6 separate regions of the Homo sapiens genome follow, and regions 1, 2, 3, 4 and 5 are each reported to be linked to region 6. Evidence: microRNA targets listed by miRTarBase, many of them from high-throughput screens and not tested one by one. Region 6 holds a microRNA gene; each other region holds the end of a gene's coding sequence.
What was found. The annotated mature microRNA hsa-miR-6727-3p reads UCCUGCCACCUCCUCCGCAG and lies in region 6 at 3,174-3,193, shown strand. An mRNA with a match to its seed (bases 2 to 7 or 8) in the 3' UTR can be bound and repressed. Matches are read on the target gene's strand: a 7mer-m8 pairs with bases 2 to 8, a 7mer-A1 pairs with bases 2 to 7 and ends in A, and an 8mer does both.

Region 1: the mRNA of ANKRD62 is a reported target of hsa-miR-6727-3p. Seed matches in the 3' UTR shown: 7mer-A1 at 3,343-3,349, 7mer-m8 at 2,699-2,705 and 7mer-A1 at 2,661-2,667.
Region 2: the mRNA of ZNF347 is a reported target of hsa-miR-6727-3p. Seed matches in the 3' UTR shown: 7mer-A1 at 1,106-1,112, 7mer-A1 at 3,208-3,214, 7mer-A1 at 4,121-4,127 and 7mer-m8 at 4,853-4,859.
Region 3: miRTarBase lists CLNK as a target of hsa-miR-6727-3p. Seed matches in the 3' UTR shown: 7mer-A1 at 1,253-1,259.
Region 4: the mRNA of EID2B is a reported target of hsa-miR-6727-3p. Seed matches in the 3' UTR shown: 7mer-A1 at 3,377-3,383.
Region 5: miRTarBase lists TMEM231 as a target of hsa-miR-6727-3p. Seed matches in the 3' UTR shown: 7mer-m8 at 1,200-1,206 and 7mer-A1 at 2,876-2,882.

What each region holds. Positions count from the first base shown.
Region 1 is chr18:12,127,244-12,132,317 of GRCh38, reverse strand. It overlaps ANKRD62 (ankyrin repeat domain 62), which reads right to left. Exons shown (of 14, transcript NM_001277333.2): 14 at 2,554-4,570. The coding sequence ends at 4,379. Among named protein-coding and RNA genes, the nearest start is that of ANKRD62, 36 kb to the right of the region's middle.
Region 2 is chr19:53,136,047-53,141,120 of GRCh38, reverse strand. It overlaps ZNF347 (zinc finger protein 347), which reads left to right. Exons shown (of 5, transcript NM_032584.3): 5 at 1-5,074. The coding sequence ends at 813. Among named protein-coding and RNA genes, the nearest start is that of ZNF415, 5.7 kb to the right of the region's middle.
Region 3 is chr4:10,485,960-10,491,033 of GRCh38, reverse strand. It overlaps CLNK (cytokine dependent hematopoietic cell linker), which reads left to right. Exons shown (of 19, transcript NM_052964.4): 19 at 421-4,639. The coding sequence ends at 567. It overlaps LOC105374482 (a long non-coding RNA gene), which reads right to left and starts at 1,921. Exons shown (of 3, transcript XR_925387.4): 1 at 1,839-1,921.
Region 4 is chr19:39,527,906-39,532,968 of GRCh38, forward strand. It overlaps EID2B (EP300 interacting inhibitor of differentiation 2B), which reads right to left and starts at 4,947. Exons shown (of 1, transcript NM_152361.3): 1 at 3,082-4,947. The coding sequence starts at 4,897. The coding sequence ends at 4,412.
Region 5 is chr16:75,535,403-75,540,476 of GRCh38, reverse strand. It overlaps TMEM231 (transmembrane protein 231), which reads left to right. Exons shown (of 7, transcript NM_001077418.3): 7 at 303-3,736. The coding sequence ends at 483. It overlaps CHST5 (carbohydrate sulfotransferase 5), which reads left to right and starts at 4,369. Exons shown (of 4, transcript NM_024533.5): 1 at 4,369-4,433; 2 at 5,068-5,074.
Region 6 is chr1:1,310,621-1,315,694 of GRCh38, reverse strand. It overlaps MIR6727 (microRNA 6727), which reads left to right and starts at 3,129; the gene lies at 3,129-3,193. It overlaps PUSL1 (pseudouridine synthase like 1), which reads right to left. Exons shown (of 8, transcript NM_153339.3): 6 at 5,007-5,061; 7 at 4,624-4,786; 8 at 4,018-4,365. The coding sequence ends at 4,316. INTS11 (integrator complex subunit 11) reads left to right here. Exons shown (of 17, transcript NM_017871.6): 5 at 77-175; 6 at 257-291; 7 at 733-871; 8 at 1,330-1,394; 9 at 1,774-1,963; 10 at 2,103-2,186; 11 at 2,571-2,660; 12 at 2,746-2,908; 13 at 2,995-3,102; 14 at 3,194-3,255; 15 at 3,327-3,469; 16 at 3,548-3,677; 17 at 3,771-4,095. The coding sequence ends at 3,836.

The sequences.
Region 1 (5,074 bases), not on the chromosome of region 6:
TTACAACGTTACTGGCACCAATGAGTTTTGCCACATTGCAGGATACATGATCAATATATAAAAATCAATCGTAATTCTATATGTTAGAAATAAACTGCTAGGAATTGAAATTTTAAAAATAATACTATTTATAATAGCATTAAAATATAAAATTCTTGGGAATATATCTGACACTATGCAAAATATCTGTACAATAATAACTAAAAAGTATTGTTGAGAAAAATCAAAGAAGATCTAAGAAAATACCTTATTCACAAGTTGAGAGAGTCATCATTATTAAGATTCTTTACCATGACATAATGCAATCACAGTCCAAATCCAAGCAGGTATTTTGTAGAAATTGACAATTGATTTTAAGACTCTCATGGCATGTAGATGACACAGAAATGTGCAGTAACTCTGAAAAAAACAAAAGAATAAATTTAGAGGAAAAATACAATCCAGTTTGAAGAATTATTACAAAGCTACAAAAATCATAACAGTGTGATTTTGGCATAAAGATAAAGAGATCAATAGAACAGAACAGAGTCCAGAAACCAAGTCTACATAAAACACATACACACACACACACACACACACACTCACACATACACACACTCTCTCTCTCTCTTAAAATATGACTGGTCAAGTGACTGCTTATGAACTGTAATTGCTTGATACATGAGTCTAGCATCTCTTGGCCTTAAATCACTACCATAACCTTGAGAAGTTGATGATGCCTTTGTTTTCTGAGAACAGTTTCAGCGTGCAAGCTGACAGTTCCATAGAGATGGAACAAGTGTAGAGCCAGAAAAAAAAGGGATACACACAGACTTCTTAGGACTTTTTTTAAAGCTATTGAAGATGATAAACTAATGAGGCATAAGTATACTTTTCATTATGAATGTTTGTTTTCACATCTTTCAGTAATGTGTATAAGAAAAAGTATTTAATGTGGTATTTGTTAACCAAGCAACCCATTCACTATTTATATTTATTTCAGAAATCCATGATTTAAATTTAATTCATAATTTTTGGCAACATACCTTCATCTACTTCTGCAGTTATGTTTCCTTGTACACCTGCTGCATCTGAAACTGTCAAATCTTATTAATAATGTTTAAGTTAAACAAGAGACATTATCATGTAGCCCTATTATATGTCAAGGAGGGTTGATCAACACTAACTTGAAAATCTGAAATCCAAAATGCTGTACAATTTGAAACTTTTTGAGCACCCGCATGATACCACAACGGGAAAGGTCCACACCTGACCTCATGTGACAGGCTGTGGTGGAAACACAGTTAAAACTTTGTTACATGCAAAACATTTTTGTAAAACATTGTACAGGCCAGATGTGATGACTCACGCCTGTAACCCCAGCACTTTGGGAGGCTGAGGCAAGTGGATCACCTGAGGTCAGGAGTTCAAGACCAGCCTGGCCAACATGGTGAAACCATCTCTACTAAAAATACAAAAATTAGCCTGGTGTGGCTGCACGCACCTGTAGTCCCAGCTACTTGGGAGGCTGGGGCAGGGGATTGCCTGAACCTGGGAGGCAGAGGTTGCAGTGAGCTGAGATCACACCACTTCACTCCAGTCTGGGCGACAGATCAAGACTCTGTGCCCCACTGCATCCCCCAACCCCAGGCAAAAAAAAAAAAAGTAAAACATTGTGTAGAATTATCTTCAGGCTATATGCATAAGGTATATATGAAACATAAATGTATTTCACGTTTACTCTTGGGTACCATCCCTAAGGTATTTCATTAGGTGTATACAAATATTCCAAACTCTGAAAAAATCTACTTTTGGTCCTCCCAAACATTTTGGACAAGGGATATTCTAGAAAAATAAAATTCCTTTTCAGTGTGACAGAAAATAAGAGATTGACTTATTGAACTTGAACTTACCAAAATTTTCTGAAGCTGCTCAATTTTGTCCGCTCGCTTTTTCATTCTAATTTTTAACACGGCATTTTCTATTTTAAGCCTAAAATATATATTTTAAAATAATTATTCTCAGACATAATTTTTTTTAAATCATATAAATTCTGAACAAACATCTGAAGGAATAATTATATAAATTCTGAGACATTTGAAAAGTAGAAAATTGAGAAACTGTTGTTATTTTTTTACCTTTGTTTTGTGGGTGATGTGTAAAATTAAAAATAATGTAGAAAATTTATGCATTTCAAAATAGCCTAAAGCTGAAATTTTTCCTTGACTTCACATAGACATACTTATTATCTTAACTGATACAATTCTCCTACTACACTACTCATTTGCTTTATAAATACTCAAGATATTTTGTATGTTGCTTTAAACTGTACTTTTGCATGTGGTCTGGCAACTCCTCAGCACGTCTTAGAATCTCTGTGCGTTGATTCTGCATTTCTTGCAACTAAAACAAAGAATTAAAAACAACCTTTAGGTGTGGAAATAACCCAAATGCCCATCAATAGGTGAATGAATGAACAAAATATGGTTATATATAAAATACTGTTTTTAGACTATCACAATCTATTTTAATAAAAAATGATAATCTAGGACAAATCGACCTATTACTTTTTTTTTTTTTTTTTTTTTTTTGAGACAGAGTCTTGCTCTGTCGCCCAGGCTGGAGTGCGGTGGCACCGTCTCGGCTCACCGCAAGCTCCGCCTCCCGGGTTCATACCATTCTCCTGCCTCAGCCTCCCGAGTAGCTGGGACTACAGGCGCCTGCCACCACGCCTGGCTAATTTTTTGTGTTTTTTAGTAGAGACGGGGTTTCACCGTGTTAGCCAGGATGGCCTTGATCTCCTGACCTCATGATCCGCCCATCTCGGCCTCCCAAAGTGTTGGGATTACAGGCGTGAGCCACCGTGCCTGGCCCCTATTACCTGTTTTTTAACTAAATTTTACTGGAATGCAGCCACACCCCTTCAGTCTGCATATTGTTTACGGCTACTTTTGTGCTGTAACTGTAGTGTTGAGTTGTTGCAACAGGGATCTTATGGCTCACAAAGTCTCAAATAATACTACTTGGCCCTTTACAGAAAAGTTTACTGCCTATGCTCTAGGATTAAAACACAGTATTTTTCTTTTCTAATTTCTATTTTATCAGATACTCAAATTTACAAAATTGGTAAAATGGGGAAACATAGGAAATTATAGTAAGCATTTATATTTTTCAATTCCAAACACCACTATATCAACTATAATTTCATTTCTTTTTTGTCTGTTTGCATTTAATTTTTGCTGTAGCAAGAAAACTTGCACTTTTTTTTTTTTAAGACGGAGTCTTGCTCAGCCACCCAGGCTGGAGTGCAGTGGCACCATCTTGGCTCACCGCAACTTCCACCCCGCCAGGTTCAAGCAATTCTCCTGCCTCAGCGTCCCGAGGAGCTGGGACTACAGGCGTGCACCACCACCATGCCCAGCTAATTTCTTTATCTTTTTTAGTAGAGATGGGGTTTCACCATGTTGGCCAGGATGGTCTCAAACTCCTGACCTCAGGTGATCCACCCGTTTCAGCCTCCCAAAGTGCTTGGATCACAGGCGTGAGCCACCGCGCCCGACCCATTTTTAACATTTAAAACTAAGCATCATCTTTCCTTTCCAGGGAAACCAGAAGAAAATTTTAAAACAAACAGAAAAATAATTAAAATAGATAGATTCTCCTATCGAGTGGCAGGGCTCATGTCATCATTAGGAGATAATTTATTTAAAAGTGTCATCTTAAAATGCAGGGATGTCCATTGACATGCCAAAGGAGAAGCCACGTTGTCAAAATGCCCACTTGACCCACCCAAACATCTCAAACCTACCCTTTGCTGACCTTCTATAACCCCATTTGTAAAGTTTTTTGTTTTTGTTTTAAGCAAGAGAAAGTAGACACATACATGTTGGCAAATGCTAACTGTCCATAGTCATATGACTCTGACTATAGACCAATATAAAGTCAGAGCAAGGATTTTCATCAAAATACTAATTTATTCTGCAGAATGGACTTTCTGTACCAGTTAACCAGAAACCCATGAAATAAGTAAGCACAAGTCTTTATTCACACAGAAAAGTAGAGATTAAAAAAAGAAAATTTTCTGAAACATTCCATTAGACATTATCCTCTGAATTAATCTGGCTTGTCTCCACGTGGCAATGAAAGAAATCACTAAAAATATACTGTAAAAAGAAAAAAGAATTCTCTAATCTTCTGTGAGAAATGATGTGTAATTCTCAACTTTCATAAGGGGAAATAGTGTAAGAAAAATATTTATAATTATAAAACATGGCAGAGATTGAGAAATGGATGTATTATAAAGATAATCAAATTTTAATAAAATTAATTATAATGAAAATACAAAAGAAAGCTCTCCACTGAAACTAGTGTCCTGAAACACTTGATATTATTTAACCAGCTACAGAGTAACTGTTGACATGCTAAGTTTCATACATACTTGACTTCTCATCTGGCCTAATTTCTTTTTTAAACTTTGTGCCTCATCTTCTAAATTAATACGACGTTCTGATGAAATCTCTAGCATAGCTTCTAACAGCAATTGTTTGTTCAGGGCATCATCCACTTCTCGTTGAAGCTGTCTCCTGACTACCTGGTAAGATGTTATTTTTGTTACTGATTTTACATATCACTTATTATTAAATTTTGTTAATAATATTTAACTCTAATATACACACTTCGAAAAATACCACCACACACTGATTCTTCTTCTCCTCCTCATGTGTACACATTCCTGTTTATTACTGAATCCAGTTAAGGATAAAGAAGGTGTTATCTTTGTGCCAAACTGGTGCCGTGTTACTCATACAACAGATTCAGCGCACTGATGAATGTGCAATGCTTAAAAACCTTCTGAGGTCTCAAAAAGAAACAGGTATGTGGGTGGGACTGGTGGCAGTGAATTTTACACTGCAGTGTTTTCCGTCTTTTTTATAAGAAGAAGCTCAAATCAACCTCAGAGTTCTTCACATATTCAGTCACCAGCTCAAATCCTTCCAACAGATTTCCACCTCAGAAGAAAACTAACCTTCCAATGGCCTTAGAGGCTCTAGTTAACCTGGCTTCCACTTCTCTCCCTGACCCCAGCTGCTATGTC
Region 2 (5,074 bases), not on the chromosome of region 6:
AAATGTAATGAGTGTGGCAAGGTCTTCACTCAGAATTCACACCTTGCAAGACATCGGGGAATTCATACTGGAGAGAAACCTTATAAATGTAATGAATGTGGCAAGGTCTTTAGGCATAATTCATACCTTTCAAGGCATCAGCGAATTCATACTGGAGAGAAACCTTACAAGTATAATGAGTATGGCAAAGCCTTTAGTGAACATTCAAACCTAACTACCCATCAGGTCATCCATACTGGTGAAAAACCTTACAAATGTAATGAGTGTGGCAAGGTCTTCACTCAGAATTCACACCTTGCAAGACATCGGAGAGTTCATACTGGAGGTAAACCTTACCAGTGTAATGAATGTGGCAAAGCCTTTAGTCAAACATCAAAGCTTGCAAGGCATCAGAGAGTTCATACTGGAGAGAAACCATATGAGTGTAATCAGTGTGGGAAAGCCTTTAGTGTCCGTTCAAGCCTAACTACCCATCAGGCAATCCATACTGGAAAAAAACCTTACAAATGCAATGAGTGTGGGAAGGTCTTCACTCAGAATTCACACCTTGCAAGACATCGGGGAATTCATACTGGAGAGAAACCTTACAAGTGTAATGAGTGTGGCAAAGCCTTTAGTCAAACTTCAAAACTTGCAAGGCATCAGAGAATTCATACCGGAGAGAAACCATATGAGTGTGGGAAACCCTTTAGTATCTGTTCAAGCCTAACTACCCATCAGACAATCCATACTGGTGGGAAACCTTACAAATGTAACGTGTGGAAAGTTCTAAAGTCAGAGTTCAAACCTTGCAAGCCATCACAGAATTCATAGTGGAGAGAAACCTTACAAATGAAGGTGGTAACTTTTGCAGTTAGAATTCATTCCTTTGACAACGTCAGAGAATTTATGCCTGAGAGATTCCTTGAAAATGCAATGACTGGCTGGGTGCAGTGGCTCATGCCTGTAATCCCAACACTTTGGGAGTCCGAGGCAGGTGGATCACCTGAGGTCAGGAGTTCAAGACCAGCCTGACCAACATGGCGAAACCCCATTTCTACTAAAAGTACACAATTAGCTAGGCCTGGTGGCGTGCGCCTGTAATCCCAGCTATATAGGAGGCTGAGGCAGGAGAATCACTTGAACCCAGGAGGCGGAGGTTGCAGTGAGCCAAGATCGTGCCAATGCACTCCATCCTGGGCAAAAAGAGCAAAACTCCATCTTAAAGGAAAAAAAAAAAATGCAATGACTGTGGCAAACTCCTCATGAGTTCAAGTATTAATAGACATCCAAGAGTCCATAATAATGAGAAATCACATAAATGTACTGTGTGTGACAGAGGCTTTATTCAGGCCTCACAGCTTTGCAGGCATTAAAATCTACGTATTTGATGGAACCACACAAATGTAATGTGTAAGAGCATCCTGAAGCTCTTACTCTAAGACTGTAACTGTAGGTGAGGATTCATACAAAGAGTGACTCAGTCTCTAGTTCTTTGATTCACTTTTAAAATGATAAACTGCACAATAATTACACGTTCCAATATGGTAAAACTTAAGACATTATATATTTCAAAGGTCAAAGGACATTTGGAAATGGCTACTTACCTTCAGGTTATAAAATCTTTTATTCCATTGTTTGAGGTTTCTCAAAAAGGCTACTGTTTGTGACTTTCAACCTGAACTATGGATCTGTGGCTATTTTGCATCCTTAAGCACCTTTCGTGGTGCCTATCTGGGAAAGAACCACAGTATGGAAAGGCTTACTTCATTACATGAGGATCATTTTTATCCATGTTTATTGAAGAAGGAGGACTCTGCCTTGTAAAATTAAATATTCTCTCAATTGAGAGACCATGGTTTTGGGGCAGAAAATAATGTAAAACTATGATATCAATCATCATACTGATTGTGTTCAGGGTGCTTTTCTGAGAGAAAGACACCATGGGTTTTAGGGAAGTAAGGCTCTACCTGCATTGAGCAGGCCAAGACCTCAGGACACTGGAATTTTTATGAGAGGAGAGTAATAAGTTATTAGTGACTGATTATGTGATGGGAATAGTGCAGGGGAAATGGTTGCCACTTTCTCTACTGAATGGCAATAGCTGTTTTATAGCAGAGATTGATGAAAAATAGGCTTATTTTTGAAATTGAAGAGGTAACAGTTATTAGAGTGGAGAGCTTGGTCAGAAAAACCAGAATACCATGGTTTTTTTTGTTTTGTTTTGTTTTTAGTAGAATTCACACTAATTGCTGGAATTACATTTTGCTACAGTTTTATTAAGAATGTGTCACAGACATAATGTTTTGCTAAAAAAAATTCAACGTTTTCTTATAACTATAAACAAATCACATTCTTTGTACCAACATCATTTTATCCTACCTCAGTAGGATACTTCATAGCAGATAATAACAATACACTCAGTCTTTTAGGTTGGAGGATGTAGAACAATTTTTTTTTTCTTTGTGGAATCAACATACAATTTTGGGAAAATGTAATCATACTCTGCACTTGAATTATTCTCTCTACACTCTGCCTTAGAATATTTATATGGATATAATGAAAATCCCATAGAAAGTGCAGTTTTCATACTCTTACACTCTGAAAGCTGCCACAGTGTTGGTGAATATATACCATATTATATTTTTACATGCTTGTGTGCTAAATAACTATGGCATGCATCTTTATTTACATGAAGTGAAAATACAAATATAGAAAGTGTATGGGCTGGGTGTGGTGGTTCATGCCTGTAATCCTAGCACTTTGAGAGCCCAAGGCAGGGGGGTCACTTGAGTCCAGGAGTTTGAACCAGCCAGGACAACATGGCAAAACCCTGTCTCTACAAAAAAAATAGAAATATTACCCAGGCAGGGTGGCTCATGCCTGTAGTCCCAGCTCCTCAGGGAGACTGAGGCAGGTGGATCACTTGAGCCTGGAGGCAGAGGTTGCAGTGAGCCAAGATCGCGCCATTGCACTCCAGCCTGGGTGACAGAGCGAGACCCTGTCTCAAAAAAAACAATTGTATGAAAAATATTGGCTGGGTGTGGTGGCTCACACCTGTAATCCCAGCACTTAGGGAGGCCAAGGCGGGTGGATCATGGGGTCAGAAAATCGAGACCACCCTGGCCAACACAGTGAAACCCCATCTCTACTAAAAAATACCAAATATATATATATTGGTTGGATGTGGTGGCATGCGCCTGTAATCCCAGCTACTCGGGAGGCTGAGGCAGGAGAATCACTTGAACCCAGGAGGTGGAGGTTGCAGTGAGCCGAGATTGCCACTGCACTCCAGCCTGGGCGAGAAAGTGAGACTCCGTCTCAAAAAAAAAAATTATGAAATTATAAATAGTGCAGAATAACAAAAATAACACTAAGAATGCTATGCTCACATAATTTGACAAGACTAATATTCATGAGTTTCCTCTTAAAAATGAACATATATAATGGAAATTTTGTTTTTGTAGGTAAACTAGAAGTTTCATAAATTTAGCCTTATCATGTTTTTGGTAATGTTAATTTGTCACCTCTCCACAGGAAGTGTATTGAACTCCATTTACAGTTTGGTTTAGATATGGAAAATGAGGATGCTGAACAATGAAGTTTTAGGGAAATGTGTATTGCATAATGAGGCTTTCTGTGAGAAGCAGGATTGACTTCCCAAACTGGTCCAAAATGGCTTGAGAGAGCAGGGATAAATAACTTGCTTGGGGTGTTATGGTAATAACCTTTAATAAAAGGGTGGGTTGGGGTGAGGATCCCACACGTGATTTGAACTTCCATCTAGTGCCAAAGGAGGGAACACGGACATTATCAGCTTGGCCAGATGGGCAGAATAAGAAGAGGGAGTGCAGAGGTATAAATGGTGGTATAAGACAAAAATCACAAAATGGAAACTGACTGTAGTACAACACTGAATATTTACTCTTGCAACTTCTGATTTCTGGCCAGGCATGGCCAGAAATTACAGGCTCATGCCTGTAATCCCAGCACTTTGGGAGCCCGAGGCAGGTGGATCACCTTAGGTCAGGAGCTCAAGACGAGCCTGGCCAACATGGTGAAACCCCATCTCTACTAAAAATACAAAAATTAGCCAGGTGTGGTGGCGCACTCCTGTAGTCCTAGCTACCAGGGAGGCTGAGGCAGGAGAATCACTTGAACCCGGGAGACGGAGGTTGCAGTGAGCTGAGATCTCACCACTGCACTCCAGCCTGGGCAATAGAGTGAGACTCTCAAAAAAACAAAAGAAATTTCTAACTTCTTTGTTAGGGAAGACCTCCGCTTTCTTCATAATAGTAGATAATACTCTTCCTTTCTGCTGAACCCATAGGGCCCATTACACAACGTCATTCTTGAAAATATTTGTGAAATGCTGTTTAAATTGCCTAAAATATTTTTACAGTAGTTCAATGCAAATGAATTTGTGGAAAAGTTTATTACATAATATGATCAAGCAATTTTAGCCAAAGGGCATTTTTCCAAAGGCTGTGTTATATTCATGTCTTGTTCAGTTTATGGTATTGTGTAACATATTCTCCATAGCTTCTTTTCTTTTTTTTTTTCTTTTTCTTTTTAGACGTGGGGTCTCGCTATGTTGGCCAGGTTGGTCTTGAACTCTTGGCCTCAAGCATTCCTCCTGCCTCAGCTTCCCAAAGTGCTAGGATTACAGCCATGAGCCAATAGTAGTAAAATGACTTTTTGTTTTTGTATATGATTTTTACTTTAAGGATTTTTTCCTTCCATACATTTTAATCCAAATTATATGTTTACTGCATTTCTTCTCTGTGTTACTCCAGTGAACACTTAGAAAATACATAAATGAGGGTGTTGTTTAGAAATAAAATTTTGTGACATGAAAATGTATGTAAAACAATGGCAGGTACAGACTAGGTTCTCTGTAAATAGGAAAATGGAGTGTCCTTGTAAATCTTTAGTTCAATTAAAGTACAGGGATACTAGATGGTGAAATGAAGTCTCTTAATATGGAAGTTATCAAAGATCAGATGCTTGAAAATCAAGCGTGTGGAGGTTAACCAGCATCTGGAGAAGTAAATGAAAATACAGTTAATAAGAGAGTCCCCAAGATATTAATTAT
Region 3 (5,074 bases), not on the chromosome of region 6:
CAGCACTTTGGGATGCCGAGGCGGGTGGATCACCTGAGGTCAGGAGTTCGAGACCAGTCTGGCCAACATGGCGAAACCCTGTCTCTACTAAAAATACAAAAATTAGCTGGGCGTGGTGGCGCATGCTTGTAATCCCAGCTACTTGGGAGGCTGAGACAGGAGAATCACTTGAACACGGGAGGCGGAGGTTGCAGTGAGCCGAGATTGTGGCACTGCATTCCAGCCTGGGTGACAGAGCAAAACAACGTCTCAGAAAAAAACAAACAAACCAAAAACCACTTCCTGAAACACCTTTACCATACAAACATTGTTAAATTGGTTCACCTCTTCCCCATGCAAAATGAAGCACCTTGGCTATACTTTAACCTACAGACACAAAAGATATTTTAAAAGTCATTAACTTTCTTTTCTGTGTTTCAGAAGTTTGATTCAGTAGAAGACATCATCGAACACTACAAGAATTTTCCCATTATACTAATTGATGGGAAAGATAAAACTGGGGTCCACAGGAAACAGTGTCACCTCACTCAGCCACTCCCTCTCACCAGACACCTCTTGCCTCTGTAGCCTGGTCTTTGTGTTATCTTTGGTTTACTGGATTCAGCGCTTCCATTGTTTTCATTGATTTCAAAAGTTTATTTTCTGTGCCTTCAAGGGACAACTTTTTTAACTTTGGAGAAAAGAAAAACACTCTATAACAGAGAGTGGAAAATCACTCACGGTTTTGAAAGTTCAAACCACAGAGAAAATATTTATAACATGCAAAAAATAAAAACATTCTAGTAACTGGCCACTGGAAAATAAATAAAAATAAAAACTAGGGTTTTAAAAGTATCTTCTAAAAAACAACAACAAAAAATACTATAAACATAGCCATTATGCTCATGATACAGGCGAGCAGCAAAGGGCACCAGAAGCTGTTGCTTAAATGTTTGCAGTCAGTGCAAGACAAGTCTATGGGAAATTCCCAAATCTGTGCTCTTTACAGGACACTGCGCTGCCTTTATGTCAGTTGTTGGGCCTTACATATATACAATGTGTGGATGATTTCTTACACTAAAGATGCTGGGCTGGGTGCGGTGCCTCATGCCTGTAATCCCAGCACTTTGGGAGGCTGAGGTGGACAGATCACGAGGTCAGGAGATCAAGACCATCCTGGCTAACATGGTGAAACCCCATGTCTACTAAAAATACAAAAAATCAGCTGGGCGTGGTGGTGGGTGCCTGTAGTCCCAGCTACTCGGGAGGCTGAGGCAGGAGAATGGTGTGAACCCGGGAGGCGGAGCTTGCAGTGAGCCGAAATCGCGCCACTGCACTCCAATCCAGCCTGGGGACAGAGAGACTCCGTCTCAAAAAAAAAAAAAGGTGTTGGGTTGGTGAATATTAGCTCTCTTTTATTGTAATCCTAGAAATTCAAGTATAGGGAAGAAATGTGGTATGGAAAACCAGCAATTGTGAATGTCACCTTGAAGACAGAAACTGAAAATCCTCTGACTAGGGTGTGAAACGGTCATGGGACCAGCCTCCAGCATCATCTGCTTCAAGTAGCTTTAAGTCAAATGGAATTAACACATTCATAGTACAGAGCTCAGATTATATCCTACACTAGCCTTCAGGCAAGCATATGTCTGAGGGAAACTAAAAATTGTATTAACAATTCCAATTATGGACTTCCATTCAAAGACAGAGAAAAACTGTCCTCAAATTAGTGCTAATTCTTGCAGTAACGTTGCACAGGCCATGATATTATTCCCTGTAGAGGTTAAGAGGATTTAATTTTATTATTGTTTTACAATAAAGATGAGGAAACAGAGGCTCGAAGTAGCTATTGATCTTACTCAATATGAGAAGAGAGCCCAGATTGTAATCTGCTTTGCCTGGCTCCATGCAAGCTCATCTTCCCAGGTACATTCTCTGCGCTGTGACATTTTACAATCAAGTTGAAAAGCTAATTTAAAAAAAAAGAGAGAGAGAGAGAGAAAGATAGAAACAATTTGAAAATACAGATTTACCACCTTAAAATAAATAAACTCTTCTAGTGGGAATAAGCTTTTTTAAAAAACATACTGTCTGTCGAAAATAACAGTATATCATGATGTCAAATGCTACCAAAGCTTACAAAGGAAATTCATAGAGTATTTATGTAATTGTAGCATTGATGCAGAAAGAAAACCAAAAATAATTAAAAGGCAATAGAAGCAAATGAAAACAATAAAAACAATGTGCAGGATTATCTCTTTTGTAAGACAGCAGACAATGAGCTCTCTGGGAAAAGCTCTTAGCATCTACCCACTATCCAAATACCTGCTCAGGTGTTCTCCTTTCACAAGGTCAATGTGAAGTGATGCCTATAAGTTACATCAGGAGCATTTAATGAAGAAGCTATTTGTAAAGCTGGAACTTTTGAGACCCAGCTGAGCCTATCGTAGAGTATGCCTGCAGAGGATTACATAGAACCAAGAGACAAGAGTGTTTAAATTGGAGCTTGGATACGAAAGAACTCACTGGTCCGGTCAAAGCTAAAAGCTGTATGGTTGCTGGTCATTCTCTACTGGAATTCAACAAGCCAGGGACAGTATGGAAACAAGGACTTTACAGAAGAGCTCCAGGCTCACATTAAGAAGGAATCTGACCCTCACCCTAAAAAGCTATTGGGAGATTACTGATACCTCCAACTCACTGATTCATTGAGGCCATGCCATTCAATGCTATGTTCTCAAGAAATGTCTATGAGTCCTCTCAACCATTGCTGTTGATAAAATAGGTGAATGTCAAGTGGGGGTTAGCATTTGATAAGGTGTACGTTTGAAATAATATTTTATCGTCTCTTGTTCACAAATACAACATATAATTCCAAGAAGAAAAAAGAAGTAGAAATTCAGCATCCTTAAGATGACAGCAAGAATGAGGGGAAAAGGAAGAAAAAAAAGAAATTAAACATCTTGCAATAAAAAGCTTACAATATTTTTGTGTATTTGAACACTTCTGTAAAAAATATAAAATGGAAAATACTGACATGGGCTGCTTCTGGTGATTGGGGTTTGAGGGATTGGGTGTCGGGTTTTCTAGAACTCAGACACCAGGACAAAGTTAGAAGTGCAAACACTGATTGGAGGTTAATGTTTGAGAAAGATAAAAGGGAGAAGAAACAGAAGTATGGGTATGGGGTGGGCTTTCAGGCTCCCACCTGTGAGAGGGAAGAGGGGAGGTGTGGGGAGTGAGGAGAAAAAGCATGAGATTCAGACACAGCTCTGGGAGAGTTTTGGCCAGCTCATAGTGAGGCCCAAAGCAAAGTTTGCCCAGAGAGGAGACAGTGTTATGCTGGGCAGTAATGTCTGGGTCTTAGTGCCCCATCCTGTTAAGTCATTGTCTGGGGCTATCCTGGGAAAAAGAAAAACAACAAAAAAAAAAGACCTGCAAATGCTGTGGCCAATCCAGAAGGCGCAGCTGGACGCTGTCCACTAACTTGCTGGCCAGCAAGTTATTTCAATGGAGACTCAAGAGACCCACCTCTGGCCTGCCACAGCAACATCCTGAATTCACTGTTTTCAGTGTTGATTGTAGTAAGGACAATCACATTTACATTTTGCTTGTAATGGATGATTAAATAATAAGAGTATATAAATTCGATTGTATTTGTTTCTTACAACACTTCTGTAAAGAAGAGAGGGCAGCTATTTCTAATGCATTTTATAATTGAGGAAATTGTACCTCATTGGCCAAAATCTCACAGTGACATAGTCGCGACTGGAACCAAGGTCTCCATATGCAATTATCCTATTCATGGTCTACCTGCTTTATTAGATCTGTAATTGAATATTCAATGATTTGGATTTGGCATGCCCAAATTCCAGTGTTTTAATCCCTTTTCAACCATTACCTCACGTTTAGTTTAAAAGTATCACTTGATATCTGATTTCAATAGAGTAATAGAATTTTAGCTTTATCCAATTACAGCATTTATGCTTTCCAGATATTTTTTGGACTAAATAATTCTCATTCTGTATAAATGTGCATAGCCCTCATCATTAGTCATATATTGTGTTAGCACCTTTGTGTACTGCATGTGTATTCATTACTAAGCACTATTGTAGATGTTGAAAATAGAGCAGTGAATAAGAGAGATAGATGACAAATAAATATACAAACAAATAAGATAATCTAAGTCAGTTTCCCATTACTGGATTGGATTTCTATTTTAACACTTATTTCTGAGTACTTGTGGGGTGATGCCAACATTAAATGTTTTGAGGAAGCTCCTTTGAGATGGCTTTGAAAAGTCCTAAGTGAGAAAATTTAAAATTTTCCCAAACTTATTTATGTGGGGTGTGCATGTGTGTGCCTGTGCCTGTGTGCGTGTGTGTGTGTGTGTTTTTAAGTAACCGCATCATGGCTGTAATCAGTTAAGTCTCCTGTTCTAATTACTACGGAGGAATCAAATGAACCCCATTGTCGAATGTAGCCAATTATGTATGTGTGTACACAAATACAAATTTTTATGATAGCCTATATTGTATATTAGCATTATATTTGTATATCTTTTTTATTCTGAGCAATATTTGTTCTAGCTAAGCACATTTACATTCATAATTTACAGCCTTACTAATGTAAATAAAAGTAAATATGTAATTGAATGTTATAATTTTCTCTGTCTCTGAGTATTGAAGAAAGAAATTCAAAACATAGTTTAATTTTGTTTCATGCCCTATTACCCCTAAAGCTCTTTTGAAATTATATTTAGGGCAAATTTAGGATAAAATTACCAGAACAATTATTGACATATGAGCATTATGCTAGACTTTGGAGATAAAGACAAAAAAGACACAATCCCTGTGATTGTGAGCTCAGAGCCTGGCCGGAAAGATACACATGTAATAACCATCTTAATATGTGTAAGTTAATATCTCATTGTGGTTTTGATTTGCTTTTTCCCAATGATTAGTGAAATTGAGCACCTTTTCATATGCCTGTTGGCCATTATCAAAAAACAAAAGATAACAAATGTTGGCAAGAATGTGGACCAATGGAAACCCTGTACATTGTTGGTGGGAATGCCAAATGGTGCAGCCACTAT
Region 4 (5,063 bases), not on the chromosome of region 6:
ATCTGACCTTTAACAACATTCTCTACCAGTTGGGCGCACTGGCTCACGCCTGTAATCCCAGCACTTTGGGAGGCTGAGGCGGGCAGATTGCCTGAGGTCAGGAGTTCCAGACCAGCCTGGCCAACATGGTGAAGCCCTGTCTCTACTAAAAATACAGAAATTAGCTGAGTGTGGTGGTGGGCGCCTGTAATCCCAGCTATTCAGGAGGCTGAGGCAGGAGAATCGCTTGAACCTGGGGGGCAGAGGTTGCAGTGAGCCGAGATGGTGCCACTGCACTCCAGCCTGGGCGACAGCGAGACTCTGTCTCAAAAAAAAAAAAAAAAAAAAAAAAAAGAACGAGGTAAAACTATTGTTCTTTGTAGATGATATGATTGTATACCAAAGAAAAGCTACTGCAAACAATAAGAGAATAGAGTAAGTTTAATAGAGCACCAAAAAAAAAAAAAAAAAGATAGCATTCAAATTTACACACCATAAAACCTCATTTACAATAGCCATAAACAACAAACAGAAAACCAAACAAACCTTGGAATATTTTTAACAAAAATATGCAAGACCTATATGAAGGAAACTTTAAAATACATCTGGGGACAAATGAAAAGACTTACCACATTACTGGATAGGATGACATCGTGAGGATGTCAATTCTCACTCAACAGTATATATATTGAATGCAACCTATATAAAAATACTAACAGCTTTTGTAAAAATTGAAACTAGTCAAGATGATCCTAAAGTTCCACAATAGAAAAAAAAAATCAAAGAACAGCCTGAAAAACTTTGGAAAAGAAGAGCAATGAGGGTGGACTAGCACTACTAGGACCTAAAACATTCCAAATGAATAAAAATTGTAATGTTAACATTTAAAACTTAAAACTATTCATGAGTGTGGGGGGAAGGTAGGGTGCAACCTGAGGCAAAAAAAAAAAAAAAAAAAAAAAACCAAACAAAAAACCAGATTCCTTCATGATCCTGCAGTGGCAAAGACCTTTCTTTTTTTTTTTTTTTTTTTTTTTTTTGAGATGGAGTCTCGCTCTGTCACCAGGCTGGAGTGCAATGGCATGATCTCGGCTCACTGCAACCTCTGCCTCCCGAGTGCAAGTGATTCTCCTGCCTCAGCCTCCCAAGTAGCTGGGATTGCAGGTGCGCGCCACCATGCTCAGCTAATTTTTGTATTTTTAGGAGAGATGAGTTTCACCATGTTGGCCAGGATGGTCTCGATCTCTTGACCTTGCGATCCGCCCACCTCGGGCTCCCAAAGTGCTGGCATTACAGGAGTGAGCCACACCCGGCCCCATGACTCAAAGTCTAGAAACCGCAAAAGAAATAAACTGAATATACACAGCTACATTAAAAATTTTTTTCTCTTTTTTTTTTTTTGAGACGGAGTCTGGCTGTGTCGCCCAGGCTGGAGTGCAGTGGCTCAATCTAGGCTTACTGCAAGCTCCGCCTCCCGGGTTCACGCCATTCTCCTGCCTCAGCCTCCTGCATAGCTGGGTCTACAGGCGCCCGCCACCACGCCCGGCTAATTTTTGTATTTTCAGTAGAGACGGAGTTTCGCCGTGTTAGGCAGGATGGTCTCGATCTCCTGACCTTGTGATCCGCCCGCCTCGGCCTCCCAAAGTGCTGGGATTACAGGAGTGAGCCACCACGCCCACCCAACATTTTTCTGCATGGCAAAAGGATCACAGCAGTCTGAACTGCTGTGAACTATATTCCATGTCATCACAAAGGGCTAACTTCTTTAGTGACTGACACATAACTTACAAGCCAATAAAAAATAAGAATATGGACAGATAGTTCGCTGAGAAATGAAAACAAATGGCTCTTAAGCATTTGAAAACATGCGTCCTCACTCGTAATTAGAGAAATTCAAATTAAAACCATAGTGAGAAACCATCTTTTACTGTCAGATGCTTCCAAAGCTGTCAGATTAGCCAGGCCGTGGCGAGAGGCACAACTATCCCTGGCTGAATGGAAGGTAAACTGGTTGAGCCCCAAGGACAGCACTCTGGTGACACATTAAAAATACCAAGGTGGGGCCGGGTGCGGTGGCTCACGCCTGTAATCTCAGCACTTTGGGAGGCTGAGGCAGGTGGATCACGAGGTCAGGAGTTCGAGACTAGCCTGGCCAACATGGTGAAACCCTTTCTCTAAAAAAATACAAAAATTAGCTGGGCACAGTGGTGCACCTGTAGTCCCAGCTACTCGGAGGCTGAGGCAGAATAGCTTGAACCCGGGAAGTGGAGGTTGCAGTCAGCTGAGATGGTGCCACTGCACTCCAGTTCAGGCGACAGAGTGAGACTCCGTCTCAGAAAAAAAACAAAAACAAACAAAAAATAAGGTGGCTGGGTGCGGTGGCTCAAACCTATAATCCCAACACTTTGGGAGGCTGAGGCAGGCAGATCTTGAGGTCAGGAGATCGAGACCATCCTGGCTAACCGGTGAAACCCTTTCTCTACTAAAAATACAAAAAATTAGCCGGGCATGGTGGCACGTGCCTGTAGTTCCAGGTACTCCAGAGGCTGAGGCAGGAGAATCACTTGAACCCAGGAGGCAGAGATTGCAGTGAGCTGAGATTGCACCACTGCACTCCAGCCTGGGTGACAGAGCAAGACTCTGTTTCAAAAAGAAAAAAAAAAAACAGTGTATTATGGAAAACGAGTAAACACGTATAAATGCATAGAAAATGTTAAAACATTTTGCAAACAACCCAGATGTCCAAAAGGTGTCTAGTTCATTATACTAAGATAAGGCTTTACATTGTAGTTGTAAAAAAAAAAACGCCCAGTGGAGTAGCTCACGCCCAGCACTTAGTACTTTGGGAAGCCGAGGCAGGAGGAACAGTTGAAGCCAAGAGTTGGAGACAAGCCTAGAAAACATAATGAGGCCCCATCTCTGTTTCTATATATAAAAAAAGAAAAAAAAAACCCTGATATATAAATCTCTCCATATATAACTGAAAAAACCCAAGATGCTGATAGAGGTATACAATATGTTACCTTGATTTTATATTTTTAAAAATTTATACCTCGTGATGCAAGTTAACTACCTTGATATTAAAAGGGAAAATGCACAATATTTAGATTGATGTTTATTTGCATATGCATTAGAAAACCTGAAAGGCGTACAGTGAAAAAGCAAAAAACAAGCAAAACCAAGAAAACAACAACAAAACTCCAAGCCACAAGCAATGGCACCTGCATGGAATAGTTCTGAGTTTGGCAAAGGACAGCAACAAGAGAGATTTCTCACAGCATCTTTTGATACTTTTTTTCTTTTTTTTGAGACGGAGTCCCACTCTGTTGACCAGGCTGGAGTGCAGTGGCGTGATCTCGGCTTACTGCAACCTCCGCCTCCCAGGTTCAAGTGATTCTCCTGCCTCAGCCTCCCGAGTAGCTGGGACTACAAGCGCGTGCCACCACACCCAGTTAATTTTTTATTTTTCGTAGAGATGGGGTTTCACCATGTTGGCCAGGGTGGTCTTGAATTCCTGACCTCAGGTGATCCACCCGCCGTGGCCTCCCAAAGTGCTGGGATTACAGGCGTAAGCCAGTGCGCCCGGCCGATACTTTTTTTTGTTGAGTCTTGTGAATAGAATACATATTCTAGAATAAAATAAAAAGCTTAAAATTAACAAAAAACAAGTTTATTCCACACCTACCCAATTTCACATAGACTTGAAAACACTGATCATATAATACGTGGTTTTTTCTATTGAATATTTACTGTTCATCTAAAGTACCTCAGAAAACACAAATATGAATCTTACACTAGGATTTGTTGACATGACCACAAATTGTGAAATTTCAAAGTCCTCTCAATAGCCTTCCAATCCTAGTAACTCAGGTACACCTGGATTCCTGACAACTCTATTTCTTTGTTTTCTTTCATCACTTAGGTTCATTTCTATGGGTTCTGTTATTGGCATTTTTTTTTTCTCATATCTTTGCAAAACCATCCTTTATGGTGAAAGTCATGAAGGATTCTTCACAAATGCAGGAAAATGCATTGCTAACAAAGTGCTAAGTCAGAAGTGTCTTGGGACCTGTTTGAAAACAAGATTCGGCCGGGCGCGGTGGCTCACGCCTGTAAAGTAATCCCAGCACTTTGGGAGGCCGAAGCGGGAGGATCGCTCGGGTCCAAGCGTTCGGGACCAGCCTAGGGATGCGAGACTCCCTTCTCTATTTAAATAATACTAAAAAAGAAGAAAGAAAACAAGATTCAACAGTCTTGTCTGTTTCCATTTCGGAGTGTGCTTCCTCCTTCAATTGCACATTGCCGTATTCCCTTCCAGTTTGCATTCCCCCTAATGACTGAGTTAACTAAACTGGCACAGCCTGCCTGTTCTTTTGATCCCAAAAGGGTCACTTGGCTATTCCTTGCCACCAATGTCATCATCACAGCCGACTCAGTCGGCCAGAGGACTGAGGGCCTCGGAGGCAGTCAGCGCTACCGTAAACGCGACAGCAGCGAAGTCCATCTGCGGGGGATCCGCGTCAAAGGCTGCTTCCCTCGCCTTGCAGCCTTCCACAAACAGCCTGCGGCGTTCCTCGAAATCCCGTAGTAATCTGACCGGAATCATGGAGCTACCATCCAGATACTCGCGGAACAACAGCTGCCGGTTAATTTCTAAGAAAGCGAGCTGCTGATGGGGGTCTGGCGCGGAGGCCAGGCCCGGGACGCTGCTGGGGATGGGCCCGGGCACAGGGCCCGGCATCCGCGCCATGGACCGCGCAGCTTCGGCCACTGGGCCTTCCCGAGCCTCCTGCACCCGAACCCCGCCGCCGACTGCCCCCCGCAGTACGTCGCTGACGCCACTCGCGGTGCCCACCTGTGGGACACTGCTATCTCCGGGGAGCTCGGACATCTCCAACAGCCCAGTCGGCTCCGCCATAGTCCCAGCGTTTCTACGGAGACTGGAATAACGGCACTGCACTGCTGTATGCGAGACCTGCGCATGCGCGAGTCTCAGTGAGCGCGTAAACGCTGTGCGTGCCAGAGTGTGCGCATGCGTAAGCACGGTGGCCAATCCTCTAGCGTTCCCTAGCGGTCCTGAGTAG
Region 5 (5,074 bases), not on the chromosome of region 6:
GGAAGATTTTAGAAGATGGATGGATGGCTGGTTAACAGCTCAGGATATCTCTAGTCCATGATCAATCTAGTTTGGCATAGTTGTCTGTTTAGGAGGTTGGTCATCAGGCTTGGTATATAAATAGCTCAAATCAAATGTGGCTGGTTTTACCATTTGGCCAAGTTCAGGTCAGCTTCCATCTGGGTGTGTACATGACAGAGGTCCTGCCTCCTTTCGAGATACCTCTGCCACAGCCAATTCCATCTTGGATTTTCTCTTCATACTTAACACCATGTGGCCCTTCACTCCTTAACTGTCCATACTTATCAGCCAGGATTCTGGGAGATGGTAAAGTTCGCCTGGGTGCAGTATGTCAGCATCCTGCTTATCTTCCTCTGGGTGTTTGAAAGAATCAAGATCTTCGTGTTTCAGAATCAGGTGGTGACCACCATTCCTGTGACAGTGACGCCCCGGGGAGACTTGTGTAAGGAGCACTTATCCTAGAAAGGCCATTTCTGAAGACTCAGCAGGACCGTGGCTGCCTCATTGTCATCTTCTGGGAACATCTTAGGACCTTTTGAAAGAGCCCAGCGGACACCTGCGGGCTTGTGTGCTTTTCCCTCAGAGACAACGGTTCTTTCCGGTTTTGCTCTACACAGTTCCGTATCTTCAGAGCTCCTGCAGAATTGTCAGGGACTAGTTTGTGGAAAGGTCTGAGAGTTCCTGGAGGCTATAATTAGCTTTTTGGGTTTTCCTTCTTTGCCTTAGCGTTGAATTTCAGGAGAAAATTGCAGTCAGTTCAGACATCTTGGAAAGAGTCCCATCTCTGGTCAAGCAGAGACTTTTCCTCTGTTGAACTGAGGAACACACTGTGCATTTCTACCTTCTGTTGTGAGCCACTCTTACTCTTTTCAGGGCTCTCTTGTGACAAACATGCCAATCACTAGCACTTTGCACCCCTGGGCTTCTCCATTTCCCATTCACAGCTTTGATTTCCAGAGCTGAGGCCTTTAACTGGAGACCTGGAGGGGCAGGGCCCAAGGGCAAGGGCCGCATTAGCACAGGCAATCAGGGAGGGCCGCTGAAGGACACTTGGACCGTCCACCTGCCCCAGCCCAACAGTCAGTCATCTGTCATCAGCTCAGCTGAGCAGCCCTGGATCTTTGCCGTACTGTGACTGGGCTCTTTGCCCTATTTTTCCCTCTGTCTGTGCCCCTGGATGGCAGGCTGAAGTCAGAGGGGCTGTTTCATTCTCAGCCCCCTCAGCAGCACTGGGGGAAGAAAGCATTGTCACAACAGGTTCTTTCTGGCCCTCACCCAACAGCCTGGGCACTTGGCCCTCCTCCTCCTTGACAGCCCTCCCCCTTCCTGCAAAGGACAGGGGCGACAGGGGTTGGTGTTGGGATTGGCTCCCGCTGCCTGACAACCACAAGTTTATTTGGAAGGCTAGCGGGAAGCCCAGCGGCTGGCGTTTCCCTTGACTAAGGAACAGGGTGCCCATCAGAGTGGGGCGGGCAGCTTTGGGAAGGACACAAGAAGCAGTAAGAGTGTAAAGAGGATGCTGGCCTGGGCAGGCCAGTCCAGCCTGGCCACTAGCAGAATACCAAGCAGTCCAGTGGATTACCCTCGTGGCTAAGCAAGTGTCTGCAGGAGCAGAGATGGCTGGAAGGGGCCTCTGCACACGGAAGATGGCTTGTTCAGCCCATTCACCTCCTGAGGATGTGGGCAGTCTCCTCCAAGAACACATGGAGCTGCTTCCTGATCCCAAGCAGGTCATTGCCACTGGAAGGACATGGCCCCGGTGATCCATGCTTCATGCCCACCCAGAAACACACCCCTCAGTGTGTGCCTCAGTTTACTTTGGAGATCAGTTGTCGTTTTTAGTGCTCCTTTAGGCTTACTAAAACAGTTTTGGAAACAAAGCTATTTTGAAGTATTCAAGCAGAGGAATTCCCTAACACTGACCCCCTTGTCTTTTTTTAATATTCAGGCTGTTTTATATGCCTAAATTTTTTTCTTAAGATCTAAACGAAAAATAGTTTCTTGTTTAAATTCACATAAGGCAATGAGATATGGAAAGATGACAAGATACGTATAAACATTGGTTTGCATTTTATTAAATTATTCTAATGCAAATCTTGTATAAAGAACCCATGATGTTTTGTAACTTTCTAATTAAAATGTTCAAAATGAGGCCGAGCATGGTGGTTCATTCCTGTAATCTCAACACTTTGGGAGGCCAAGGTGGGAGGATCACTTGAGCCCAGGAGCTTGAGGCTGCAGTGTGCTATGATTGCACCACTGTACTGTAGCCTGGGTGACAGAGTGAGACCCTATCTGTTAAAATAAATAAATAAATAAATAAAAAAGTCAAAATGGAAGATCACATGTACCTTTTTCGAGGGAAAGGGTTTGGAATGGCAAAGAATAGGGAGGGCAGAGGTTGCACACACCTGTCTTTATTACTCATCTACAGCCATGCTTTACAAGGCTCTGCCTAACGACCTTGGAACTTCCATGAGGTCTTTGGTGAAAGTCCCCTAGTTCTTCCCCAGGTAGATGAGTTTTCAGTGGGATTCACATGCCATGTGAAATCTACGTGTTGGATAATTATGACTGTGTCTGGTGAATATGAAATTATTTACAGACCAGATGTTGATAGTTTCTGACTCTGAATCACAGCATAGCTGCAAGAGGTAAATAAAAAGCAAGAGGCCGGGAGCGGTGGCTCACGCCTGTAATCCCAGCACTTTGGGAGGCCGAGGTGGGTGAATCACAAGGTCAGGAGATCGAGACCATCCTGGCCAACATGGTGAAACCCCATCTCCACTAAAAATACAAAAATTGGCTGGGTGTGGCGACACGTGCCTGTCATCCCAACTATTTAGTAGGCTGAGGCAGGAGAATCGCTTGAACCCTGGAGGCGGAGGTTGCAGTGAGCCGAGATTGCGCCACTGCACTCCAGCCTGGCAACAGAGCTAGACTCCGTCTCAAAAAAAAAAAAAAAAAGAAATATAGAGGATTTTATTAACTCAGCTCCGACCCATAGCTAAGTTAAGGTTTGATGTTATTACTGAATATTTGGAGGCAGAAAGACTCCTGATTTTGCCAAATGATTAGTACAGTTTCGGCTTAAGTCAGATGAGGCCCCCCTAATATTCCATCATGTAAGGCTAATAAAGCAATTATTTCTTTTTTTTTTTTCCTTCCAACTTTTATTGTAGACTCATGGGGTATATGTATGGGTTTCGTATATAGCTAAATTGTACAACCTGGGGGTTTGGTGTACAGATTATTTCATCACCCACGTAATAAGCATAGTACCCAGTAGGTGGTTTTTCTTTTCTTTTTCTTTTTCTTTTTTTTTTTTTTTTTTGAGACAGAGTCTCACTCTGTTACCCAGGCTGGAGTGCAGCAGCATGATCTCAGCTCATTGCAGCCTCTACCTCCCAGGTTCAAGTGATTCTCCTGCCTTACCCTCCCGAGTAGCTGGGATTACGGGTGCCCACCACCATGCCCGGCTAATTTTTGTGTTTTTAGTAGAGACAGGGCTTCACCCTGGTGGTCAGGCTGGTCTCGAACTCCTGACCTCAAGTGATCCATCCGCTTTGGCCACCCAAAGTGCTGGGATCACAGCAGTTTGATCACAGAAGTTATTATGGTTGGCATTCTGGCACACATCTTTCTAATCTTTTTTGTTGTATGTAACCTTTTTAGTATCACAAACAACACTTTTATAAACCTTGTGTAGAAATCATTGTTGCTGGTTTATTTCCTTAAGATACATTCAGAAAACTTATGACCATTGTTAAGGATCTTAATTCATTGCCAAACCACAGCCAGGAAAGACTGCTAATTTCTACTCCCAGCAGCAGGGACTCCTCGTTTCAGATACCACCATGGATTAAAGGACCTCCCAATGCTCTATCCTTTTCAGATTACTGGACTCTGCCCGTTTGTTTCTTTGTTTTTGAGATGGAGTCTCGCTTTGTCACCCAGTCTGGAGTGCAATGGCCCCATCTCCGCTCACTGCAGCCTCCACCTCCGGGGTTCAAGCTATTCTCCTGTCTCAGCCTACCTAGTAGCTGGGATTACAGGCATGTGCTACCATGCGCGGCTAAATTTTGTATTTTCAGTAGAGATGGGGTTTTGCCACGTTGACCAGGCTGGTCTTGAACTCCTGACCTCAAGTGATCTGCCTGCCTTGCCTCCCAAAGTGCCGGGATTACAGTCATATGCCACCAGGCCAGGCTGAGCTGTTATTTGTAAGGGGTGGGTGGGGAGCTTTTATTTACTGAAACATATCCTGTATTCATTGGAACATGTTATCAAGCCTGCGCCTCTGGGCGGAGGCTAGGGCAGGGAGGGCACAGCTCCTAAGGCCACCTGGTCTTTCAACTCCTCCCAGCTGGGACACTGCACCGGGAGGCAGCACGGATTCCTGTGTCATCAAGGTGCCTGGGTCTTGGCTTAGGGCTGAGGTTGGGGCCTTGGGAAGGGTTTGGATTCCAAGTCCCTTGGCTGCAAGGATGCCCCCAAGAGCGAGGAGGGCCAAGATTAAGATTCGACTTCCTTCACTAGGGCCTTTGTCCTCCCAGGAGCTCCCAGGTTCTCTGGCGATTGGGGGGGTGAGGAAGGGTTACAACGTTCATTTGTGGTCAGTTAGATGAGAAGTGACTCTGCCAGCGTCCTTTGACATCCCCGGCTAAAAGGTGCGCCTCTTAGAGCCCCAGCCCACCTGGGCCCTCCTGCTCTGCCCTCGGCCAGCGCCCCTCCCCGAGACATGGCCCCTCGGTCGGGGGTGGGGAGAGGGAGCTGGGGGCAAAACCTGCTCCTTCCTTCCTTCTCCCATTTCCCTGGCTCCCGCCGGCCACCCTGGGACCGCAGCCACGTCTGAAAGCTCCTCACCAGGCAGCGCTGAAGATTGCGGGGCAGCGCCGAGGGTTGTTGGCCGGCGCGCGGGGAGTAGAGGGCGCGGGCCGCAGTGCCGGGCTCCGGAGGGAGCTCTGCGCCGGGTCCTTCCCTGTGGTAGCCCCAGGACACCCCCATCCTCAACATCCCATTCTGGGACTCCTGCCCTGTTCCCAGATTCGCT
Region 6 (5,074 bases):
TCCCGTCCCCCGCCTCCCTCACTCCCCGCCCCTCTGCTGTGAGGACACAGCCTGAGCGCAGCCCTGTCCTCCACAGGTAGATGATGAGCTGGAGATCAAGGCCTACTATGCAGGCCACGTGCTGGGGGCAGCCATGTTCCAGATTAAAGTGGGCTCAGAGTCTGTGGTCTACACGGTCAGTGGAAGGGCTTGAGGCTTGGGAGGGGCTGCTGGGGTGGGAGGCACCCTCCTCATGGCATCCTTGATCGTTCACCAGGGTGATTATAACATGACCCCAGACCGACACTTAGGGTAAGTAGGCTGAGGTGTCTTTTTGTCCCGTGGGCCCCCCTGGAGCTCAGGACCCTTGCAGGTGTCAGGGTGCCAGCCCTTGAGTGGCCAGCCTGGCAGTGTCTCCCATGTCCTGTGCGGCCTGGAGAGCCCCCTTCGTTCTGGGCCCAAATGCGCGAAGGCACAGGGTCCAGGCAGGGGCCTCTGTCCCTCCTTCTCTCTCTTCCCAAGTCTCTGGGTGGGTGCCTCTGTCTCGCTCTTCCGAAGTGTCTGGGTGGGTGCCTCTGTCTCTCCTCTCTCTTCCCAAGTGTGCTGCCCACAGCATTTTACCAGCTGGCTCTTTCCAGCCAGAGTGACCTAGGAAGGCGGCTGGGCGTGGTACTGGGGTCCAGCTTGTCACACCCAGCCCTGCAACCGTGGGGACAGTGCATCGTGGCTCACACCCCCACCCCCGTGTTCCAGAGCTGCCTGGATTGACAAGTGCCGCCCCAACCTGCTCATCACAGAGTCCACGTACGCCACGACCATCCGTGACTCCAAGCGCTGCCGGGAGCGAGACTTCCTGAAGAAAGTCCACGAGACCGTGGAGCGTGGTGGGAAGGTAGCTGCAGCAGGGGTGGGGACATGGGCCCTCGGCCATGCTGGGCTGGTCTTTCTGGCAGGCTTGGCTGCCCTTGGCATGGGTCAGGGTCTCAGGGTGGGGGGTACTGCATTTTCAGGCAGGGAGGGAAGAAGATTTGCTCAACATTGAGGAGGAAAACTCAGAGACCCTTTCCTAGGGAGCCCCTTTTCCCTCCTACCTCAGGTGCGGACGAAGCCCTGGCCAGGCTCCTTCTGTCTCTCATGCAGCTCCCTTCTGTCTCTCATGCGGCTCCCTCCTGTCTCTCATACGGCTCCCTTCTGTCTCTGGAGAGCGGCTGGGACGGGACTGGGAGCAGATGAGAGGCTAAGGTCCCTATGAGGCCGCAGCTCTTGGGCACCTGGCCGTGCCCTCACTGGACGCTGCCTGCTGTGTCGAGGGGCCATGTGCCCAGGGCTCCTGCCTTGTGTCCCCCTCAGGTGCTGATACCTGTGTTCGCGCTGGGCCGCGCCCAGGAGCTCTGCATCCTCCTGGAGACCTTCTGGTAGGTGCCGCCAGGACGGCTCTTTAAGGAGCCCCTGGCCCGGCCTGAACACAGTCCAGTTGGTGGGCAGCCCTGTCCAGCGTAGCGGTGGCATCTTGGCCCTGCTTGCTGCTGTCCTGGGGGGCCGCTCGTGTGCTGTGTGACCCCAGGAAGCCTGTGACATCCCGTCAGCGCCACCGTGTGCGGCTCTTGTAGGGGTTCCTGGTTCTCCGCTGAGCCCGGCTGCTGCAGGGCTTAATGGGACAAGTGGTCGCGACTGGACTCAACCTGGCCCGTGCGTGGGCTGTGCAGACACGGGTGTTGGGGGTGACCCGGCCGAGTCCTGCCCTGCAGCATTCTCCCCTGTGGCCACTGTGCTGACTGGGCCGGTGGTCCCCAGGGAGCGCATGAACCTGAAGGTGCCCATCTACTTCTCCACGGGGCTGACCGAGAAGGCCAACCACTACTACAAGCTGTTCATCCCCTGGACCAACCAGAAGATCCGCAAGACTTTCGTGCAGAGGAACATGTTTGAGTTCAAGCACATCAAGGCCTTCGACCGGGCTTTTGCTGACAACCCAGGACCGATGGTGAGGCCCGCGGCAGGGCCGGCCAGCACATCCACACCCGTCGGTCTCCTGTCTTCCGCAGGTGTCTGGGCTTGGGCCTGCAGTGGGGGTGGGGGCATCTGCTGCCCTGACCCCCCACCTGGCCCTGTGTGTCCTGTAGGTTGTGTTTGCCACGCCAGGAATGCTGCACGCTGGGCAGTCCCTGCAGATCTTCCGGAAATGGGCCGGAAACGAAAAGAACATGGTGAGGGCATGGTGAGGTGTGGGAATCTGGAAGCTGGAGGCCGACGGGTTGTCCTTCCACCCATGCTGTCTCTGAGCTCTCACTGGCTTGGCCTCGTGCTGGCCAAGGGACGTGGCTGCTGCTGCTGGGGAACGGGGGCGATGTCCGCCTGGAGCTGCTCAGTCTCTGTGACACAGCTTGTCCACCTCGGGCAGAACAGCCCCAGCCCAGCCCTGGACAGTCTTGTGCCAAAACCTGAGCCCTTTGGAGTCTGCAGCTAGGCTTGGTCGGGCGCCGCTGGCAGGTGGAAACAGCTTCCAGGGGTTCAGGCGGGGGCATCCCGGGCAAGGCCTTGAGGTGCCAAGGCTGGAGTTCCCTGGCTGTGAGCTCTGTGCCTGCCCCCAGGTCATCATGCCCGGCTACTGCGTGCAGGGCACCGTCGGCCACAAGATCCTCAGCGGGCAGCGGAAGCTCGAGATGGAGGGGCGGCAGGTGGTGAGTCTCGACCCCGCACTGGGCTGGCAGGGCCGAGGGGCACCTCCTGGTGGTAACCACTGTCCACGCCCCGTGGCCTCTGTAGCTGGAGGTCAAGATGCAGGTGGAGTACATGTCATTCAGCGCACACGCGGACGCCAAGGGCATCATGCAGCTGGTGGGCCAGGCAGAGCCGGAGAGCGTGCTGCTGGTGCATGGCGAGGCCAAGAAGATGGAGTTCCTGAAGCAGAAGATCGAGCAGGAGCTCCGTAGGCAGCCGGGCGGGCGGCGTGGGGCCCACCTCGGGTCAGCACGGGCAGCCTGGGCTGAGGCTCTCTCTTCCCCCGGGGTCCAGGGGTCAACTGCTACATGCCGGCCAATGGCGAGACGGTGACGCTGCCCACAAGCCCCAGCATCCCCGTAGGCATCTCGCTGGGGCTGCTGAAGCGGGAGATGGCGCAGGGTATGCGGGCTGGGCAGGGCAGGGCAGGGTGCTCGGGGCAGGCGGCTGGGAGCGGCCCTCACATTGATGGCTCCTGCCACCTCCTCCGCAGGGCTGCTCCCTGAGGCCAAGAAGCCTCGGCTCCTGCACGGCACCCTGATCATGAAGGACAGCGTGAGTGCCAGGACGGTCTCTGGAGGGGGGAGGGCCGCTGCTGCGCTCACTGACCTGTCCCTGCCCCACAGAACTTCCGGCTGGTGTCCTCAGAGCAAGCCCTCAAAGAGCTGGGTCTGGCTGAGCACCAGCTGCGCTTCACCTGCCGCGTGCACCTGCATGACACACGCAAGGAGCAGGAGACGGCATTGCGCGTCTACAGCCACCTCAAGAGGTGGGCGCCCGGCCCCGCCCCCCCCCCACTCCCTTGGGCCCTGGAGGCCAGGCAGGGTCTCACCGAGCCTCCCCACAGCGTCCTGAAGGACCACTGTGTGCAGCACCTCCCAGACGGCTCTGTGACTGTGGAGTCCGTCCTCCTCCAGGCCGCCGCCCCTTCTGAGGACCCAGGCACCAAGGTGCTGCTGGTCTCCTGGACCTACCAGGTAAGGGGTGACCCCCACCCCACCGCGGTCAACACAGGTATCAACATTCCTCCCTGTCCTGCACCACCCACAATGCTTTTGCCTCTGCCCTAGGACGAGGAGCTGGGGAGCTTCCTCACATCTCTGCTGAAGAAGGGCCTCCCCCAGGCCCCCAGCTGAGGCCGGCAACTCACCCAGCCGCCACCTCTGCCCTCTCCCAGCTGGACAGACCCTGGGCCTGCACTTCAGGACTGTGGGTGCCCTGGGTGAACAGACCCTGCAGGTCCCATCCCTGGGGACAGAGGCCTTGTGTCACCTGCCTGCCCAGGCAGCTGTTTGCAGCTGAAGAAACAAACTGGTCTCCAGGCTGTCTTGCCTTTATTCCTGGTTAGGGCAGGTGGTCCTAGACAGCAGTTTCCAGTAAAAGCTGAACAAAAGACTACTTGGTACTCTCTTCTTGGTGTACATGGCTGTGTCCTGCACTGTGCCCCATCCCGCCTGGGACAGAGACGGGCATCCAGGGTGCTGGGACCCGGGCAGGGAGGCTACTGTGGAGACCAGGCAGCAGTGCTGTGGGCCCCAAGCAGCTGTGACTGCCCTGGCTTGACCAGCACAGGGTTGGGCCTGGTGTGGCCTAACTTTGGCTTGAGTGTCCAGGGTCATCCGTGGCTCCCGAACTGTGGCCCCTGCAGGGTGCAGGAGGCAGCACCTGTGGACGGACCAGACCCTGCGTCAGCCTGGGGCAAGACCGGCCCAGCACCCTCCCCACCGCTGAGACCACTCCCATGACCAGGGAGTGGGCCAGCCCAGGACGGGCTACGGGCTGGCCTGAGGGACTGCAGCCCTGGGCGGGGGGCTGCTTCACCCCCAGTTGCTGCCGTCAGTGGCCCCTGGCCCCCCACCCCATGCCTCGGCCACAGTAGTCACTGGGCACATGACAGGAGCTTCTCGTGCCTGTTTTTCTTACCGAGGTTCCCGTACAGCACTGACTTGAGGAATAAGCCGTGGGCTGGGGCTACACGTGTCTGGTGCTTGCCCAGGGGATCTTGGCTCTCCAGAATCGTCTTCACCTGGGCAGGTGCCAAAGCCCCCAGCCCCACGGCCACCAGCACAGCCGTCATCCTCCGTACCTGTGACCCAGAGCCACCTGTGACCCAGAGCCGCCCGTGACCCACCAGCACAGCCGTCATCCTCCGTACCTGTGACCCAGAGCCGCCCGTGACCCACCAGCACAGCCGTCATCCTCCGTACCTGTGACCCAGAGCCGCCCACGACCCAGAGCCAAGACTGCACAGGGGCCTGCCCACCCTCAGCCCCACCCCCTGGGGACGGCCCCAGAACAGAGCCTACCTGTCTATACAGGAAAGACTGGCTCTCAAACTCCAGGTTCCAGAACCGCAGCTTCCTGGAAAAATACG